5 linked regions of the Homo sapiens genome follow. The protein of the gene in region 1 purifies or fractionates together with the protein of each later gene. This does not show direct contact. Each region holds a gene or a part of one and is shown in the gene's direction. Other genes may lie near its edges.

Region 1 (3,519 bases):
ACAGACCGTCATCCTGACGGCTATTTAGCCAGGTAAGTAGAGCCTGGGAATCAGGCCCCTAAGCCTCCGCTCCTCCTGGGGCCATGAGGAGCCACTGCACCTCAGCCTTGCAGTACTGCCCGGTGTGATAAGCTCTTCTGTTTTCTCCCTGTTTCTGTGAATGTCTAGGCAACGAAAAAGAGGAGAGCCACCCCCTCCAGTAAGGCGTCCTGGCAGGACCAGTGATGGCCATTGCCCGCTCCACCCTCCACATGCCCTTTCTAACTCCTCAGTTGACCTAGGGTCCCCAAGCCTTGCCAGTCACCCCCGGGGCCTGCTGCAGAACCGTGGCCTCAACAATGACAGTCCTGAGCGGAGGCGCAGGCCTGGCCATGGCAGCCTGACCAACATCAGCCGGCACGACTCCCTCAAGAAGATCGACAGCCCTCCCATTAGAAGGTCCACGTCATCAGGGCAATACACGGGCTTCAATGACCACAAGCCACTGGACCCAGAGACAATTGCTCAGGTACGATGCTTTTAATTACATATTGCATTTTAAGTACCTAAGTGTGATGTAGGAGGTGTGAAAGATTTACTTTATTTACTTTTTACTTTATTTACTTTATATTTCTGTATAGAACCAACTAAAGAAAACAGAAACAAAACCAGCTCATTCTTTAACTTAGGCCCTGAGTCTTTTTTGAACAATTTGTTACTGAAAGGGCCCAAAGGTTCATAGTGATTTAAACAGAAACATGACAAAAACGTAGGACCAGGACACTCAAACCTATCATTGTGAATAGCCAGAAAAACTTTGAAAAAGAAGAATGGGAAAGCAGTGGCCCTGCCAGATCCTAAATGCATTCTAAAGCTAGTAAAACAGACAGATGGATGAAACAGAATGGAGAGCCCAGAAACAGAAAAACCTTAAAACAGTAGTCCCTCCTTATCTGCAGGGCATATGTTTCAAGACCCCCAGTGGATGCCTGAAGCCACAGATAGTGCAAACCCCTACTGTATATGATAAAGATGGCACTTTCAACTTAGAAAAGATGAGACCTAATAAATAATGTGATCAATAATAGATAGATATTTGAAGAACAAGTCTGGATCCTATGTACCTCCTGAACACATTCAGGTCTTTGCTTCCCAACAGTGACTGCAGAGGGGCTGTGTAGTTTTCTTCTAATGACTAAAATTGACCAAGTAAAAGGGAAACAATACTAATAAATTTGCCCATCATTCTACCATTTTTCCCTCTGGTTCTGGCTCTTTTCACAGCACAGGCCATGAGAACATATGTTCGTAGGCCTAGTGGGTGGCTTACACCTGTAATCCCAACACTTTAGGAGGCTGAGGCAAGAAGATAGCTTGAGGTTAGGAGTTTGAGACAAGCCTGGTCAATATAGCAAAATCCCGTGTCTAAAAAAAAAAATTTTTTTTTAATTACCTAGGTATATTAGGATTCTCTAGAGGGACAGAATTAATGGAATATATATACATATAAAGGGGAGTTTATTAAGTATTAACTCACACAATCACAGAGTCCCACAATAGGCCATCTGCAGGCTGAGGAGCAAGGAGAGCCAGTCCAAGTTCCAAAACTGAAGAACTTGGAGTCTGATGTTCAAGGGCAGGAAGCATACAGCACGGGAGGAAGACGTAGGCTGGGAGGCTAGGCCAGTCTAACCTTTTCATGTTTTTCTGCCTGCTTTATGTTCACTGGCAGTTAATTAGATGGTGCCCATCCAGATTAAGGGTGGGTCTGCCTTCCCCAGCCCACTGACTCAAATGTTAATTTCCTCTGGCAACCCCCTCACAGACACACCCAGGAGTAACACTTTGCATCCTTCAATCCAATCAAGTTGACACTCAGTATTAACCATCACAAGTCTACCCCTTGTCAACTTGAACCCATAAACATCTCCTGAGATCGTACATAATCTTCAAATAAAAACAATAATGTCATAATTACGCCTAACATGATACAACTGTCCTTTCCTATAACCGGAAACACACCAATCCCCAACCCAAATGCTATTACATAAAGTTAACAATACTTAAATGCTGATAGGAAGTCAATATAATCTTATGTCACATGCTAAAGGAAAAAGGAAATAAAATGAAGATATTTTCCTAGTACAAGTGTATACATGCACAAACATGTTTTTAACGAAAGAAGGAAATACTCATGACAATTACAGTCCCTGTTTCCACGTGGTCATAGCTGGTATTGATGACTACCTTCTACTACCCATTCCGTATTCCCTTTGCCTTCAGCAAGCACCTCAGCAGGTCGTGGTTGTTGTTGTTGTTGTTGTTGTTGTTGTTGTTTTCCTGGCGGAGTGACCCAAACCTTCATTCCTGAAGGGTCTGGGCCATTTGTAGTCCTGCCTGGATTGGGCTATTGTAGTTTCCCATTGACCTTAATCACAGAGCGTGGTAATACTAAGAAACGCCCTAATGGATCTCCTGTATTCCATGCACACTCTTTTTTACCTGCATCGTGGAGTAGTCGACTGATTTCATCTTGATAGTCTGAGTCAGTCACCTTAGCCAACACTGTAACTCCCTTCTTAGTCTGTTGCCTTAAAGGTAGGAGGAGCCCAAAGTGTCCAGGTGGCAATCTTAACTCAATGGCATTGTTGCTGTGTCTCCTGGTGGCACATTCCTCCCTCTGGAACTGAGACCTCTAGGCCAGCAGAACATAATGTCGCGGGAACAGGAAGTAAAAATGTTGCTAGGGGGTCACTAGGGATAATGATGAATGGTGCCACTTCCACTTCCACCTCTTGATTCCTGGACCCGTGAATCCTGGCTATGGGAGAAACTGCACCATGTATTGGACACAGATTCAGAGCATACACAGCCTTCTGGGGAACTTTGCCCCAGCCCTGCAAAGTATTGTCACCTAGTTGGTGTTGCAATTGTGACATCACAAGACCAATCCACCATTCTGTCAATCCAGCTGCTTCAGGATGATAGGGAGCATGGTAAGACCCATGAATTCCATGAGCATGAGCCCACTGCCACTCTTCTTTAGCCATAAAGTAAGTGCCTTGGTCAGAGGTAATGCTGTGTGGAATACCATCATGGTGGATAAGGCATTCCATGAGTCACAGATGGTAGTCTTGGCAGAAGCATTGTGTGCAGGATAGGCAAACCCATATCCGGAGTAACTGTCTATTCCAGTGAGGACAAACCTCTGCCCTTTTCATGATGGAAGAGGTCCAGTGTAATCAACCTGCCACCAGGTAGCTGGCTGATCACCCTGAGGAATGGTGCCATATCGAGGGCTGTGTTGGCTTCTGCTGCTGGCAAATTGAGCACTAAGCAGTGGCCATAGCCAGGTCAGCCTTGGTGAGTGGAAGTCCATGTTGCTGAGCCCATGAGTAACCTCCATCCCTGCCACTATGGCCACTTTGTTCATGGGCCCATTGAGCAAGAACAGGGGTGGCTGGGGAAAGAGGCTGAATGGTGTCCACAGAATGGCTCATCCTATCCACTTGATTATCAAAATCCTCCTCTGCTGAGGTC
Region 2 (3,519 bases), on another chromosome or scaffold:
CCTTCCCTTTCCCCAGTTCTTGTTCATTCCATCCATAACTCTCAGTGTGCTCAACACCAGGTGTGTATATGTTTGTGCTGAGCTGGTAGATAGCGTGTCATGAGCATAATAGGGAACCAGAGGAATTGGGGCTCTTTGGTCCACTAAAGGCCCAGTGACTGGAGCAGGTGACTCTCTGGCCACCCCATCCCCTCTCATGGGCACAGTGTTTTACCGCCGGCACTGGAGTTCATGTGTAGAAGGCAAAGCTGTCCCATGGTCAAGAATGCAGGCTTTCGGCCAGGTGCAGTGACTCATGCCTGTAATCTCCCAGCACTTTGGGAGGCTGAGGTGGGAGGATTGCTTGAGGCCAGGAACTCAAGACCAGCCTGGGCAACATAGTGAGACCTGTCTCTACAAAATAAAAAGTAGAAAAAAGAGCCGGGTGTGGTGGCTCACACCTGCGGTTCCTACTACTCAGGAGGCTGAGGCAGGAGGATAGCTTAAGCCTGGGAGGTCAAGGCTGCGGTGAGCTGTGATTGCGCTACGGTGCCCCAGCCTGGGTGACAGTAAGACCCTGTCTCAAAAAAAAAAAAAAAAAAAAAGCAGGCTTTGGTGTTAGACACTTCACTTCCAGGATCTACCACAAGCTGTGTGACCTTGGATCAGCACTTGACCTCTCTGGTCATTGCCTTCATTTGTAGGATGGGGATTACATCAGCCTCAGTTATAAGCAATGTATGAGCTAATGTATGTGAAGTGCTTGGCAGACACTAAAAACTTAATATTGAGAAATGGTGACTGTCATCATTATTATTGATTCAGAGAAATCCCTGATTCAGGGGAAACGTCATTCCCCTTTTCACTGCAGGCCTAGGCAGGCCCGGGTTAGGGTCCTGGTCTCCTGACATCTAGTTCCTGCTCAAGAGTGAGAACTGTTATTATTATTACTATTATTGAGACAGAGTTTCACTCTTGTTGCCCAGGCTGGAGTACAGTGCCACAATCTCTGCTCACTGAAACCTCCGCCTCCTGGGTTCAAGCGATTCTCCTGCCTCAGCCTCCTGAGTAGCTGGGATTACAGGCCTGCACCACCATGCTCGGCTAATTTTTGCATTTTTAGTAGAGATGGGGTTTCACCATGTTGGCCAGGCTGGTCTTGAACTCCTGACCTCAGGTGATCCACCCGCCTTGGCCTCCCAAAGTGTTGGGATTACAGGCATGAGCCACTGCGCCCGGCTGAGAGCTGTTATTACTATTCTCATTCCTCTGCCCAGCCTCTACCCTAGGCCTCCTCCACAGCAACCTGGTGACTGATTATGAGCCAGAACAGACTGTGCTAGGGGAGGGCCTGTGGGGAAGGGGCTGTGACGTGGTGGGAGACTCTTGGGGCTGCTTTCTGTCTTCGTGGGGCCGCCCCTGTGCACAGGGCAGGCCTGAGCAGGGCTTTTCCCTGGAAGGTACCTGAAGCACACCCTGGACCAGTACGTGGAGAGTGACTACACACTTCTGTATCTGCACCACGGCCTGACCAGCGACAACAAGCCCTCCCTCAGCTGGCTCCGTGATGCCTACCGGGAGTTTGACCGCAAGTGGGTTGGGGCATGGGGCCTGCACAGTCAGATCCAGAGGCAGCGGCTCTGCCAGCTTCCGGGCTGCCCTCCACTTGGGCAGGAGCTTATTCCAAGGCAGGGGGTGGCGGGGGCTGCCGTCTACGTCAATGTAAAGAATCTGCAGTCAGATCACCCTGGGCTTAAGTAAGGCCCAGTTTCTCAGCTTATTTGCACTCTGACCTCTTGTTTTACTTAACCTCTTTGAGCCTCCTGTTTTCTAATCTGTAAAATGAGACAGTGATGGCCCTTACCTCGCATGCTGGCCATGCATGTTCAAATCAGAAAATATGCACTGAGGCAGGGTGTGGTGGCTCACACCTGTAATCCCAGCACTTTGGGAAGCTGAGGCGGATGGATCACTTGAGGTCAGGAGTTCCAGACCAGCCTGGCCAACATGGTGAAACCCTGTCTCCGCTAAAAATACAAAAATTAGCTAGGTGTGGTGGTGGGTGCCTGTAATCCTAGTTACTCAGGAGGCTGAGGCAGGAGAATAGCTTGAATCCGGGAGGTGGAGGCTGCAATGAGCTGAGATCACACTCCAGCCTGGGTGAAGGAGACTCTGTCTCAAAAAAAAAAAGTATGCACTGGGACCCTAGCGTGGCACCTGTCCCACCACGCCTGCTCCTGAGTTGTCCATTCTGTCTCTGCAGGTACAAGAAAAACATCAAGGCCTTGTACATCGTGCATCCAACCATGTTCATCAAAACTCTGCTCATCCTCTTCAAGCCCCTCATCAGGTGAGTGGCCACGGGCAGGGCTGGTGGTCCCGGCTTGCCTGGAACTCTGAAGCTGGGAGGCTGGGCAGCCTGGGGACCACCAGGTGCGGCTGGGCTTCCGTCTGAACTGGGTGGGTGTTGAGGGGAGAGTGGAGGCCACCGGAAGCGGGCCCCCACAACCCAGGCCCTTTCTTCCACCAACAGCTTCAAGTTCGGGCAGAAGATCTTCTATGTGAATTACCTGAGCGAGCTGAGCGAGCACGTGAAGCTGGAGCAGCTGGGGATCCCTCGCCAAGTGCTCAAGTGAGGCGGGTGCGGCGGCTGGGGGCTCGTGAAGCCAGGGTAATGAGGACGTGTGTCCTGATTCAGAGACCGCGTGGGGCTTAGGCAGAGCAAGCCCGTGTCCCGACCTCTCCCAGGTCTTTGCTTTCTGCTGTGGAAAGCGGAGTTGTTACAGAGATCGCATGAGATGATCCTCCTGACCCCGCGTGGTCAATGCTTGATTGAATTGGCAGAGTGACTCCAGAGCCAGGCAGGACCTGACCCACCTCCCTCTACTCCTACAGATATGACGACTTCCTGAAATCCACACAGAAGAGCCCCGCGACAGCCCCCAAGCCCATGCCCCCACGGCCCCCCCTGCCCAACCAGCAGTTTGGAGTCTCGCTGCAGCAGTAAGTATGAAAGGTGGCTGGGCCACGGCGGGGCGGGAAGGGCTGCAGGCCCGGCTCACCAGCCTTTTTCCCGCAGCCTCCAGGAGAAGAATCCAGAGCAGGAGCCCATTCCCATTGTACTCAGGGAGACTGTTGCCTACTTACAGGCCCACGGTGAGTGCCGGGCCTGCCTCCTCACCAGCCAGGTCTCCCGGCTCCCTTCAGGAAGCTGGGGAAGCTGCTGGGCAGGGCAGAGGGAGGTCCTGCAAGCCTCAACGTCCCCACCCAGCCCTGCCTAGAACCCCAAGACAGAGAAGGGGCAGGGAATCCAGCCGGTGCCCAGCGCTCGGAGGCTCACCAGGCCCTACTGTTTCCCAGCTCTCACCACCGAGGGCATCTTCCGGAGGTCGGCCAACACCCAAGTGGTCCGGGAAGTGCAGCAGAAGTACAACATGGGTGAGCAGCCCTGGGCTGTTGCAGGGCCATATGTGTGTTACTGGTAGGGGGCTTCTCTGCCCTCTGCTGCCCTGTAAATGAGAGTCTCAGAGTCTCTTCCTG
Region 3 (3,519 bases), on another chromosome or scaffold:
TGTCTTTGAACTCATAATTTATTCTCCTCTGATTATTACAAGCCTTAAAAGAGGAGGACTGTGTACTTCTAAAAATTTATCTTGGAATTTAAAACAAAAACCAGAAATACTTAATTTTATTTGCTTTAGGCCCAACAAAATATATTCTTTTGCTTCATCACCTGCATTTATTAACTGATTTATAATAGAATGTATAAATTCTGGAAACATTATGTGTTGTTCATTGCAGAAGCTCTGAATCAGGGAGAGACTGTGGATCTGGATGCCTTGATGGCTGATCTTTGCTCTATAGAGCAGGAGCTCAGCAGCATTGGTTCAGGAAACAGTAAGCGTCAAATCACAGAAACGAAAGCTACTCAGAAATTGCCTGTTAGCCGACATACATTGAAACATGGCACCTTGAAAGGATTATCTTCTTCATCTAATAGGATAGCTAAACCTTCCCATGCCAGCTACTCCTTGGACGACGTCACTGCACAGTTAGAACAGGCCTCTTTGAGTATGGATGAGGCTGCTCAGCAATCTGTACTAGAAGATACTAAACCCTTAGTAACTAATCAGCACAGAAGAACCGCGTCAGCAGGCACAGTGAGTGATGCTGAAGTACACTCTATTAGTAATTCCTCCCATTCCAGCATCACTTCCGCAGCCTCCAGCATGGACTCTTTGGATATTGATAAAGTAACACGCCCTCAAGAGCTGGATTTGACACATCAAGGGCAGCCAATTACTGAGGTAAATAAATGGAACTTTTTCCCTGGTATTTTGTTATTAAAATAAAGGAGAAATTATATTAAAATAATTTTAATTAACTTCTTAAATTCTTCTACATTTATAATTTGTCAAAGATACTTCTGAGATAGGTTTCAAGAGTACAGAAGGAATATATTATCAGATATGGTAGTGGCACAAAGATGATTTAGAAGAAATTTAGTTTCTTTTTTATTCTCGTGACTATAGTATTTGGAAGTTCTTGAATGGCATTTTTTATTGTAATATGAGTCATTTCACGTGATTTGAAAAATTAAAATGATTCACAAAACCATTTAGTTATTTAATGTATGTTGATTTAAAGTAAAACTTAAGAAAAACACTCATATCACCATTGTGGTCCTCCAAGATTCTAGTTTACAGGGTTAACTCCATTTCATTATCTTTTTTTTTTTCTCCTTTTTTTTTCTTTGAGATGGAGTTTGTACTCTTGTACAACTCATGCCCAGGCTGGAGTGCAGTGGCGTGATCTCAGCTCGCTGCAACCTCCACCTCCCAGGTTCAAGTGATTCTCCTGCCTCAGACTCCCAAGTGTAGCTGGGATTACAGGCGCTCACCACCATGCCCAGCTAATTTTCATATTTTTAGTAGAGATGGGATTTCACCATGTTGGCCAGGCTGGTCTCGAACTCCTGACCTCAGGTGATCCAACCGCCTTGGCCTCCCAAAGTACTGGGATTACAGGCGTGAGCCACTGTGCCCGGCCCTCCATTTCATTATTGAAGAGTCAGTATGGTATATTGGAAAGGGCCACCAGGTATGGAATCAGGAAACTTGATTCTGAGTTTTCCTTGCCACTCACTACCCATGGGACCTTAAGTGAGTTATTCTCTTAAACATCAATTTCTCACAAGTAAAATGGAGTTCATAGTACTATATCTGCCTTCCTGATAGGGTGGTTCAGAGAACAAAAGTTGTTCATAAACAGGTTTTTTTTTTTTTTTTTTTTTTTTTTTTTTAATAGACGGAGTCTCATTCTGTCGCCCAGGCTGGAGTGCAGTGGCATGATCTTGGCTCACTGCAACCTTGCCTCCCGGGTTAAGTGATTCTCCTGCCTCAGCCTCCTGAGTAGCTGGGATTACAGGCGTGTGCCACCATGCCTGGCTAATTTTTGTATTTTTGGTAGAGACGGGGTTTCACCATGCTGGCCAGGCTGGTCTCAAACTCCTGACCTTGTGATCCGCCCACTTCCCAAAGTGCTGGGGTTACAGGTGTGAGCCACTGCGCCCAGCCAGAGTTCGTAATACTATATCTGCCTTCCTGATAGGGTGGTTCAGAGAACCGTAAGTTATTCATGAACAGATTTTTAAAAGATGGAATTTTTTTCAGCATGTGACTGGATAAGATAGGGAATAGATTTGCGGTAACAAGTTCAACAAAAGCTGAGTTTGGTGAAAGAGAATTCTTTATTGAGTTGTTTTCATCAAAGAGATGGTAATTCTGTCATAGGGTAGCAGCAAGAAAGAAGAAAAATGGGGCAAAGTTAAGTCAACCTTTCCAATAAGCTTGTGTTGACAATATTCTAATATGGGATAAAAGAATCTATTTATGAATAATCAGTACTAAAGTAAAATCTTGAATTTTAACTATTACTTGACATCATTGATTTTTTTTTCGTAACTTATTTAATTCTTTGGATTAATTTCCATCAGTAGGTAACTCTTGGTACCCACCCATGTGCGTAGCTTTGTTTTTGGTACTGTGGAGCACAAAAGGAGTATGAATCATGGTGGTTTGGAGATAAACTTGAGTTATTTCAAAGAAAGCGAATCTTATCAATCTGAAGAATAAACTTTCATTTATTTAAAATGAAACTTATCTAAGTGGTATATATTCTATAGAGAACTTGAAAACTGATTTCTAGGCCGGACGTGGTGGCTCACACCTGTAATCCCAACACTTTGGGAGGCCGAGGCGGGCGGATCACCTGAGGTCAGGAGTTTGAGACCACCCTGGCCAACATGGTGAAACCCTGTCTCTACTAAAAATACAAAAAAAAATTAGTTGGATGTGGTGGCGCATGCCTGTAATCCCAGCTGCTCGGGAGGGTGAGGTAGGAGAATCGCTTGAACCAGGGAGTCGGAGGTTGCAGTGAGCCAAGATCGTGCCACTGCACTCCAGCCTGGCAACAGCAAGACTCCGTCTACAAAAAAAAAAGGAAAAAAAAAACTGATTTCTATTTTGTGATACCTGGGAATTATATTTAGCCACCAGCTACTTAATATGTATCATTTCATGTCCTTTAGATTTACCTGCTAGGATATGAGCAATATTTTATTAGGGATGTGCTTTCTTGGCCATTCTTTGTTTTGTATGTTGATATTCCTTCCAATCAGTTTACAGTATTTTGAGTTGGATTAAGATGCGTGAGGGACAAGTTATAAACTAATCATTAAGGATCTTCTAATACCGTATGCATGTCTTTCTGTCTGTAAAATGTGCTCATTATAAAAGTTCATACAGTATAGGGGCAAATTGAAGTAAAACGTGAAAAGTTCCTCTCTCCCAGCAAGCGCACTTCAAATGGTATCTAGTGGTATCCATGGGTATCACTGTGAATACTGCAAAGATACCAGTGCTCAATGGTATAATGTTTAATATAAGAGTTTAATGTAAGGTTTGGTGAGTAAACCAGGACTATAGCAGGGAAAGGAGTTAAAAAGCCTTATCTAGCTAGCCTGTTCTTTTGCCTCACCTAGGAGTATAGAAAGGTGGTTTAACAAACCCGGAACTTGCTTCCATTTGCTT
Region 4 (3,519 bases), on another chromosome or scaffold:
AAAAAAGTGAAAGAGAAATTGAAAGGGAAAAAAGACAAAAAGCATAAGGCTCCAAAACGAAAGCAAGCATTTCACTGGCAGCCTCCACTAGAATTTGGTGAAGAGGAGGAGGAGGAGATTGATGACAAGCAAGTTACTCAGGAATCAAAAGAGAAAAAAGTTTCTGAAAACAATGAAACCATAAAAGATAATATTCTAAAAACTGAGAAATCCAGTGAAGAGGACCTTTCAGGTAAACATGATACAGTGACTGTTTCATCAGATCTTGATCAGTTTACTAAAGATGATAGTAAACTCAGTATTTCTCCCACAGCTTTAAATACTGAGGAAAATGTGGCCTGTTTACAAAACATTCAGCACGTTGAAGAAAGTGTTCCCAATGGAGTGGAAGATGTGCTTCAAACAGATGACAACATGGAGATCTGCACTCCTGATAGGAGTTCCCCAGCAAAAGTAGAGGAGACTTCCCCTCTAGGAAATGCACGGCTTGATACCCCAGATATAAACATTGTTTTGAAGCAGGATATGGCAACGGAACATCCTCAAGCAGAGGTAGTAAAACAGGAAAGCAGCATGTCCGAAAGTAAAGTGTTGGGTGAAGTGGGGAAACAGGACAGCAGCTCTGCTAGCTTGGCTAGTGCTGGAGAAAGTACCGGGAAGAAGGAGGTGGCTGAGAAGAGCCAGATCAACCTCATTGATAAGAAATGGAAGCCCCTGCAAGGTGTGGGGAACCTGGCAGCACCTAATGCTGCCACATCCAGTGCTGTGGAAGTTAAGGTGTTGACCACTGTGCCTGAAATGAAACCACAAGGCTTGAGAATAGAAATTAAAAGCAAAAATAAAGTTCGGCCTGGGTCTCTCTTTGATGAAGTAAGAAAGACAGCACGCTTAAACCGTAGACCAAGAAATCAGGAGAGTTCAAGTGATGAGCAGACGCCTAGTCGGGATGATGATAGCCAGTCCAGGAGTCCAAGTAGATCTCGAAGTAAATCTGAAACCAAATCAAGACACAGAACAAGGTCTGTCTCCTATAGTCACTCAAGAAGTCGATCGAGAAGTTCCACATCATCTTATCGGTGAGCAATATTCTCTTTCCTTTCTTCTCCCAAGGAGAGTCTGTTATTGTTTAGCTTGGAAGAATATCAGAATTAGGGACAGAATCACTATTTCCAAATATCTGAAAGGAATAAGAAGTCTTGTTTTGTGTGATTCAGAGAGTAGATTGAAAACTTAGGGAGAGGGAATTTCAGGAGGAGAAATTTGGGCTGGGTTTACAAAACTATTACTATCAGTTTAAAGCTCTCTGTCACTAGAAATGAGTTCCCATGATAGGTGGTAAATTCTCCATCTTTAAAGGTGTGAGGCTGCTTCTTGCCAGTCAAGTGATGCCTTAGAAGGGAATCCTGAATTGACAGAATATATAGAATTTGCAGATCATTAATCTAACCTTCCATTTTACACATGTGGAAGTTGAGGGCCAGAGAGACAAAGTTACCTGCCCAAGACATGCATCTTAGTTTAGATGGGGCATAGGGATAAAAATGATCATCTTTAGATTTTTGTTGTTGTTTGAAAAGCAATAAAAGAATTTAAAACACCTTTTTCTCATCTTTGTCACTCTGCACCTTCATGAAAAGGTTTTTTGTTATTGTTATAAATTGCATCATAACTTGTCAGCATAGAATGGATAACAGAGATGAGAATTAAAAACTAAAAATATTTGTGATGGTAATAGGAAGTTAGTAAGCAGTTGTGTTGCATTCTTTTTCTTGTAAATATTTTATGGTTTTACCTGTTTCTTAATTATTCATATCCCTTATTTTATTGTGCTTGATATTCATCATTTGAACTGAAAATACCATAAGAATCTTTGACGTTTGTTTCCTTTCTAGTTATTCATCAGTCTTTCTTCCCTTGCCTACCCAGACTTCCTAAAAAAGGAACCGCCACGTGCCATCTATACTCGGTCTCCCATTTTCTCCTCGGCTGTGTGCTTGCTGCCTTCTGTGCCTTCCCCTCCCCGCATCTCTTAGTTTACTGACTAAGACTTTCAGGTACTTCTGATGGCCAGTACCATGGCGTATTTTCAGCCTCACTTCTGGAGCCCTCTGCTAGCTCTCCTTTCTCCCACTCAGGCCATTTCGTCCCTGTGTTCTAGGCTTCTCTTCTTCCTCATGGCCTTTTCTCTCTGAGTTCCTGTTGATAGATGCAGTTGCCTATTGAGCGACTCCAGCTTCCTGTCTGCTTATGATCTGCCTTAACCATTTACACAGAGACAGCTCTGAGCTATTCGTGATGCTGGCCACTCTTCTCATTTACCTTCCCACCTCTGCCTTGGAGTGGGTGGTATTTCAGTTTGTAATGAAGACAGCAAGGCGTAGAAAGGCTAAGGGACTTGTTCTAGGCTATGCAGCTAACAGGTAGTAGACTGAGATGGATAAGCCTGGGTGCTGCCCTGCCTCCCTGTTTTGGTTACCTGCCTGGGCCTGACACCCCCATTAGGCTGTGAACTCCTTGAAGTCAGGAACTGTGTGTTACTCATCGTTCAGTCACCTCACAGGGTCTGGCTTTATTATTTTTGGTTGAATAAATGACTACAATCTTATTAGAACATAACGTATTCATTTTCTTGCAGATATACTGGAAGCAGGTCATGTCTTCCAAAACATAGTGCATACTGAATAAAACCTATGGTGATATTACATAATGTCACCTGTACACAGAGGTATTGTTCTGTTCCTGAATGACAGGCCTAAAGTAGGGGAGAAGGGTGGGGAGCCAAGTGAATGCAGAGGGGCAGAATTGTACTGCTTACATTTTTGCTTGTTTTATTAAGTATTAGACATAAAAAATGATAAAAGTATAAAAAGCTATATAATACATACTCATGTACCTGCCATCTAGCTTAAAAAATAGATCTTTGGGCCGGGTGTGGTGGCTCACACCTGTAATCCCAGTACTTTGGGAGGCCGAGGTGGGCAGATCACAAGGTCAGGAGTTCAACACCAGCCTAACCAACATGGTGAAACCCTGTCTCTACTAAAAATACAAAAATTAGCCGGGCGTGGTAGTGCGTGTCTGTAATCCCAGCTACTCAGGAGGCTGAGGCAGGAGAATTGCTTGAACCTGGGAAGCAGAGGTTGCAGTGAGCCAAGATCGCGCCACTGCACTCCAGCCTGGGCGACAGAGCAAGACTCCTCAAAAAAAAAAAAAAAATAGAGCTTTGATGTACCAGTGCCACCCCTAGGTGCATGCCTATGTCCCAAAGTTAACCATTATTCTAAACTTTGGTTATAATTTTGTTGTCTTTCTTTATAGCTTTACCCCAAGTGTTTCTATCTTTATACAATGTTATGTTTGCACTTTTTATTAAGTAAAATACTTTTATATATATAGATGTTCTACATTTGCCTTCTTCATTCAACATTGTGTTCTAGAGATATATCCTTGCTGAAACATGTAGCTGTAGTTCATTTTCTTCAGAATATTTCGTTATATATCTCTACCTTAATGTTTTTT
Region 5 (3,519 bases), on another chromosome or scaffold:
GGAATGCAACTAGACGACAGATTATTACTGACTACATTCCAGTGGCAAGCTTATCATTTGGATTTTCACCTTTGCCTAAGTAAGCAGAAGCATTTCTGGGGCAAATTAAGATATTTGTTTTTTTTAATCATAGATATATTTTTTATTAGATATAACCTTGCTGACAGGTTTCAGTTTTATTTTTATGTATTGTGATTTATTTTTTATGATTTGCAGACATTTTTGTGATTCTTATTAAAATCATATTGATATTATATTATTAAAGTTATTTATAGTTTATATATATTTGGAGTATAAGCCTTTTTATATCCTGACAATCTGAATACAACAATAGAAGAGAAAAAAGGCAAATAAATGGTCCAATTTGTTTCTTTAGTTACTCAGAAATATAGAGAAAGCAGAGATGTGAAATCGCTCATGAAGAGAAAATAAATGTTTATTGTTTTTTCATCTGATATGTCTAGATTATCGAGCAAATGACACAGTTCCTCCAACTATCCCATACAACCAATCATACGACCAGAACACAGGAGGATCCTACAACAGCTCAGACCGGGGCAGTAGTACATCTGGTAAGTAAGATGAACCAAAGAACTTCTCCTTTAAAAAGCTGGTACTTTCCAAGATTACAAATTGAGTGCTAATGGACTGACGTATGTAGGTGACATGTCTAAATCACTGTATGTAATTTGAGTCTCAGGCATGTGTCTTGTCTCTGCAATTTGAGGGACTTTCCACTCACTAAATCATTTTATGTTCTATTTGGCAAAAAGACTAAGTGTCCTATTTTCTTCCTTGTTAATGAGCTTTAGCAAAGCCAGAAGAAACATGTCTGGTTAATCTTTAAAGGCAGTTGAAACTTTTTCCCCGTTGGCCAAAATATAACTAAAAATGTTGCACAGAGTTAACCTGCTAAATATGTTGCCATTTGAAACGAGCCTATAAAAGCACATAATGTTTGAGGACACTTGAGCAGAATCAAAAGCCGGAGAGACAATAACATGAGATTCAGGTACAATAGGAGCCTGTCTCAGTTTATCATCCCTCTACGATCCCTCAGTTCTTGCTCTGAAGCCTCGTAAAGCAACCTCCCAACCTCAGTCTGTAAGTGCCTCCCAAAGCCACATTGAGGCCTCTTCCCTGTGGTCTTCATGCTGTTACAGCTGTTTGCCAGCTGTTTTCCTGATAGGGGCTGCAGATGGGAGCTTGCTGGGTACTTAAGTCCTGTTTTTCTAATTAAAGGCAGTTCGTTATTAGAACTAACATGTGGCACATCACACCACAATGAGAACAAAACCGACTGATCTTGACTCTAGCAATGTTTCTCCAGGAGAGGGTAGAAATGCCACTTCCCAGCAACTGGATTAAAGTTGTTCTTAGGGGCTTTTAGCCAAGAGTCTCCACCCTTCTTCTGTAATGAATATGGCATTTGCATTTTACAGTTTTCCCTTAACTAACACGCTGGTCTGGCATTGTCTAGCCTGTGTTTCTGTTGGAATTAAGGGAGCTTAGAAATGGCCCTTTACCTTTTAGATTTACTCTGATTCTATTATATGTTATTTGTTTGTTTTAACAATTAACATCTTATTAAATGACTTCTTTTTTGAAGCTAAGTCAATCCTGAATTAAGAGAAATATTTCAAGGATCTACTTTTAAGAAAATCATATGAAATATTTTAATATTTGATTATCTTATGCCATTTGATCTTTGAATTTTTAGTCACATAGAGAAAACCATATCTTAATGGGAAAATAAACAATGATTCTAGGTTATTAATCTTTAATTGACCTTCAGCATCCCTCAGCTTAGATACCTAGATCTGGGTGTTCTACTGCTATATATCATTTGATATTCTGTGAATATATGGTAAAAAGATGTAAAGATGCGTGATGGTAATTAGGGAAGAGAACAAAGCAAGTAAATAAGGTATAGGAGAGATCTGTGATAGGCCTCTCCGGACTGATGGAGTTGCTACAGTAGATGTATATCAGGAAATCCAGAGGAAGATGTGGGTTAATGTCTAGTCTACAACACATGCACAGTTATCCCAATGCTGGACACCGGAGTGGTGGACGAGAGAAGTGAGAGACATACACATAGGACTGATAATCGTAGTTTATTAATAACAGCCTGTCCCTAGCCCACGCTTAGTGTGGTAACCTACCAGTACAAGAACATCTGGCTTAACAAACACTGCCATTTGACTGAAAATTCCCAAGTGACAAAAAAATCAAGGCTCATTGAATATGATCAGACCTGATTCATATATTACATGACTTGGAGAAGGATTGGATAGGGTTAAAAAACTAAGGCCAACATAATGCACTGATATAAAGGGAACTTATGAGAAAAATAATCATAGACTCATTGTCTATAATTCACATATGAATCAAAAATATAACATATTGGAAAGGGGATATTTTGTCCCAAAATATTTGTTGACCTAAAGTTTTTGTTAAAATAAATGCTCTCAAATATATAGCCTCTTGTGTTTAAAAAATATGCCAGATCTAAAATGAGAACACTGGAGCACTTGAATGATTGGGCTATGTCAAACTACTAAGAATGTTCAAGCAACATCATTTTACCATAAGCCATCATTGTACAGAAACAGTGGCTGAAAACACTTCTGTCCCTTTTAAAAATCATTTTTCTGCTTCTTTTGTCATTAGTTCTATCAGTTATTCCAGCTATTATTTCATCTGTACTTGCCTTTCTGAAGGGAACTAGTAATTTCATTGTGCCTAAAACATTTCAATGGACAAGTACAAATTATATATATTCAGTGATTTAATGCAACAGTGGAACTCTAATAGATCGTATCTGTATCATATTGTATTTTAAGTTCCAGCAATTAAATAATAGAAAGGCACTCGAGAAAATATATCTACAGCTCATTTGTTTGAGATGATAATCCATAATGCAATTAATTGCTGCAGGAAGATCACTATTAATGATATGACTTGAAACATTCATTCATGGTTTTATTGCTTTTTTGCTATTTATTTTGCAGTTATTCATGGCAGTACCTTGCATGTTCTCTTGTACAAAGTTCTGTTTAAAATTAATGAAAAAGCATGTTTATCTCTGTATATATAAATGAATTATAAAATCATATTTACAAAAAATAATTAACTTGTGACTAATGGAAAAAGTTTAAAGGCCAGAGATCAATGGCTTCTATTTTATTTCCTTTCTAGGGAGTCAGGGGCACAAGAAAGGGGCAAGAACACCCAAGGTACCAAAACAGGGTGGCATGAACTGGGCAGACCTGCTTCCTCCTCCCCCAGCACATCCTCCTCCACACAGCAATAGCGAAGAGTACAACATTTCTGTAGATGAAAGGTAAGAGGAGCATCCAAACAGATGTAAACAGTGTAATATGATTGTTTCAGCCCATTTTCAGCAATTATTATACTAGGTGGTCAAGAGAAGACTGATTCCTAAGGTCCACAAACAGTTGCCTTTAAATAAAATAGTGCTGGTCAGCAGGAAGTAAAAATTCTCCTTGCTGCTTC

Evidence for each region.
Region 2: the proteins of SRGAP1 (region 1) and ARHGAP1 purify together in Homo sapiens (affinity purification with mass spectrometry; one large-scale study listed by BioGRID and IntAct). This does not show direct contact.
Region 3: the proteins of SRGAP1 (region 1) and RAPH1 purify together in Homo sapiens (affinity purification with mass spectrometry; one large-scale study listed by BioGRID and IntAct). This does not show direct contact.
Region 4: the proteins of SRGAP1 (region 1) and NKTR purify together in Homo sapiens (affinity purification with mass spectrometry; one large-scale study listed by BioGRID and IntAct). This does not show direct contact.
Region 5: the proteins of SRGAP1 (region 1) and ROBO1 purify together in Homo sapiens (affinity purification with mass spectrometry; one large-scale study listed by BioGRID and IntAct). This does not show direct contact.

What each region holds. Positions count from the first base shown.
Region 1 is NC_000012.12:64,127,693-64,131,211, forward strand, and holds part of SRGAP1 (SLIT-ROBO Rho GTPase-activating protein 1), read left to right. Parts: coding exon 1-32; intron 33-168; coding exon 169-508; intron 509-2,481; exon of another isoform or gene 2,482-3,040; intron 3,041-3,519. UniProt on the Homo sapiens protein: GTPase-activating protein for RhoA and Cdc42 small GTPases. Together with CDC42 seems to be involved in the pathway mediating the repulsive signaling of Robo and Slit proteins in neuronal migration.
Region 2 is NC_000011.10:46,680,103-46,683,621, reverse strand, and holds part of ARHGAP1 (rho GTPase-activating protein 1), read left to right. Parts: intron 1-1,439; coding exon 1,440-1,571; intron 1,572-2,242; coding exon 2,243-2,329; intron 2,330-2,512; coding exon 2,513-2,611; intron 2,612-2,874; coding exon 2,875-2,982; intron 2,983-3,058; coding exon 3,059-3,135; intron 3,136-3,339; coding exon 3,340-3,417; intron 3,418-3,519. UniProt on the Homo sapiens protein: GTPase activator for the Rho, Rac and Cdc42 proteins, converting them to the putatively inactive GDP-bound state. Cdc42 seems to be the preferred substrate.
Region 3 is NC_000002.12:203,486,800-203,490,318, reverse strand, and holds part of RAPH1 (ras-associated and pleckstrin homology domains-containing protein 1), read left to right. Parts: intron 1-229; coding exon 230-735; intron 736-3,519. UniProt on the Homo sapiens protein: Mediator of localized membrane signals. Implicated in the regulation of lamellipodial dynamics. Negatively regulates cell adhesion.
Region 4 is NC_000003.12:42,638,675-42,642,193, forward strand, and holds part of NKTR (NK-tumor recognition protein), read left to right. Parts: coding exon 1-1,076; intron 1,077-3,519. UniProt on the Homo sapiens protein: PPIase that catalyzes the cis-trans isomerization of proline imidic peptide bonds in oligopeptides and may therefore assist protein folding. Component of a putative tumor-recognition complex involved in the function of NK cells.
Region 5 is NC_000003.12:78,630,988-78,634,506, reverse strand, and holds part of ROBO1 (roundabout homolog 1 isoform a precursor), read left to right. Parts: intron 1-464; coding exon 465-572; intron 573-3,201; coding exon 3,202-3,346; intron 3,347-3,519. UniProt on the Homo sapiens protein: Receptor for SLIT1 and SLIT2 that mediates cellular responses to molecular guidance cues in cellular migration, including axonal navigation at the ventral midline of the neural tube and projection of axons to different regions during neuronal development.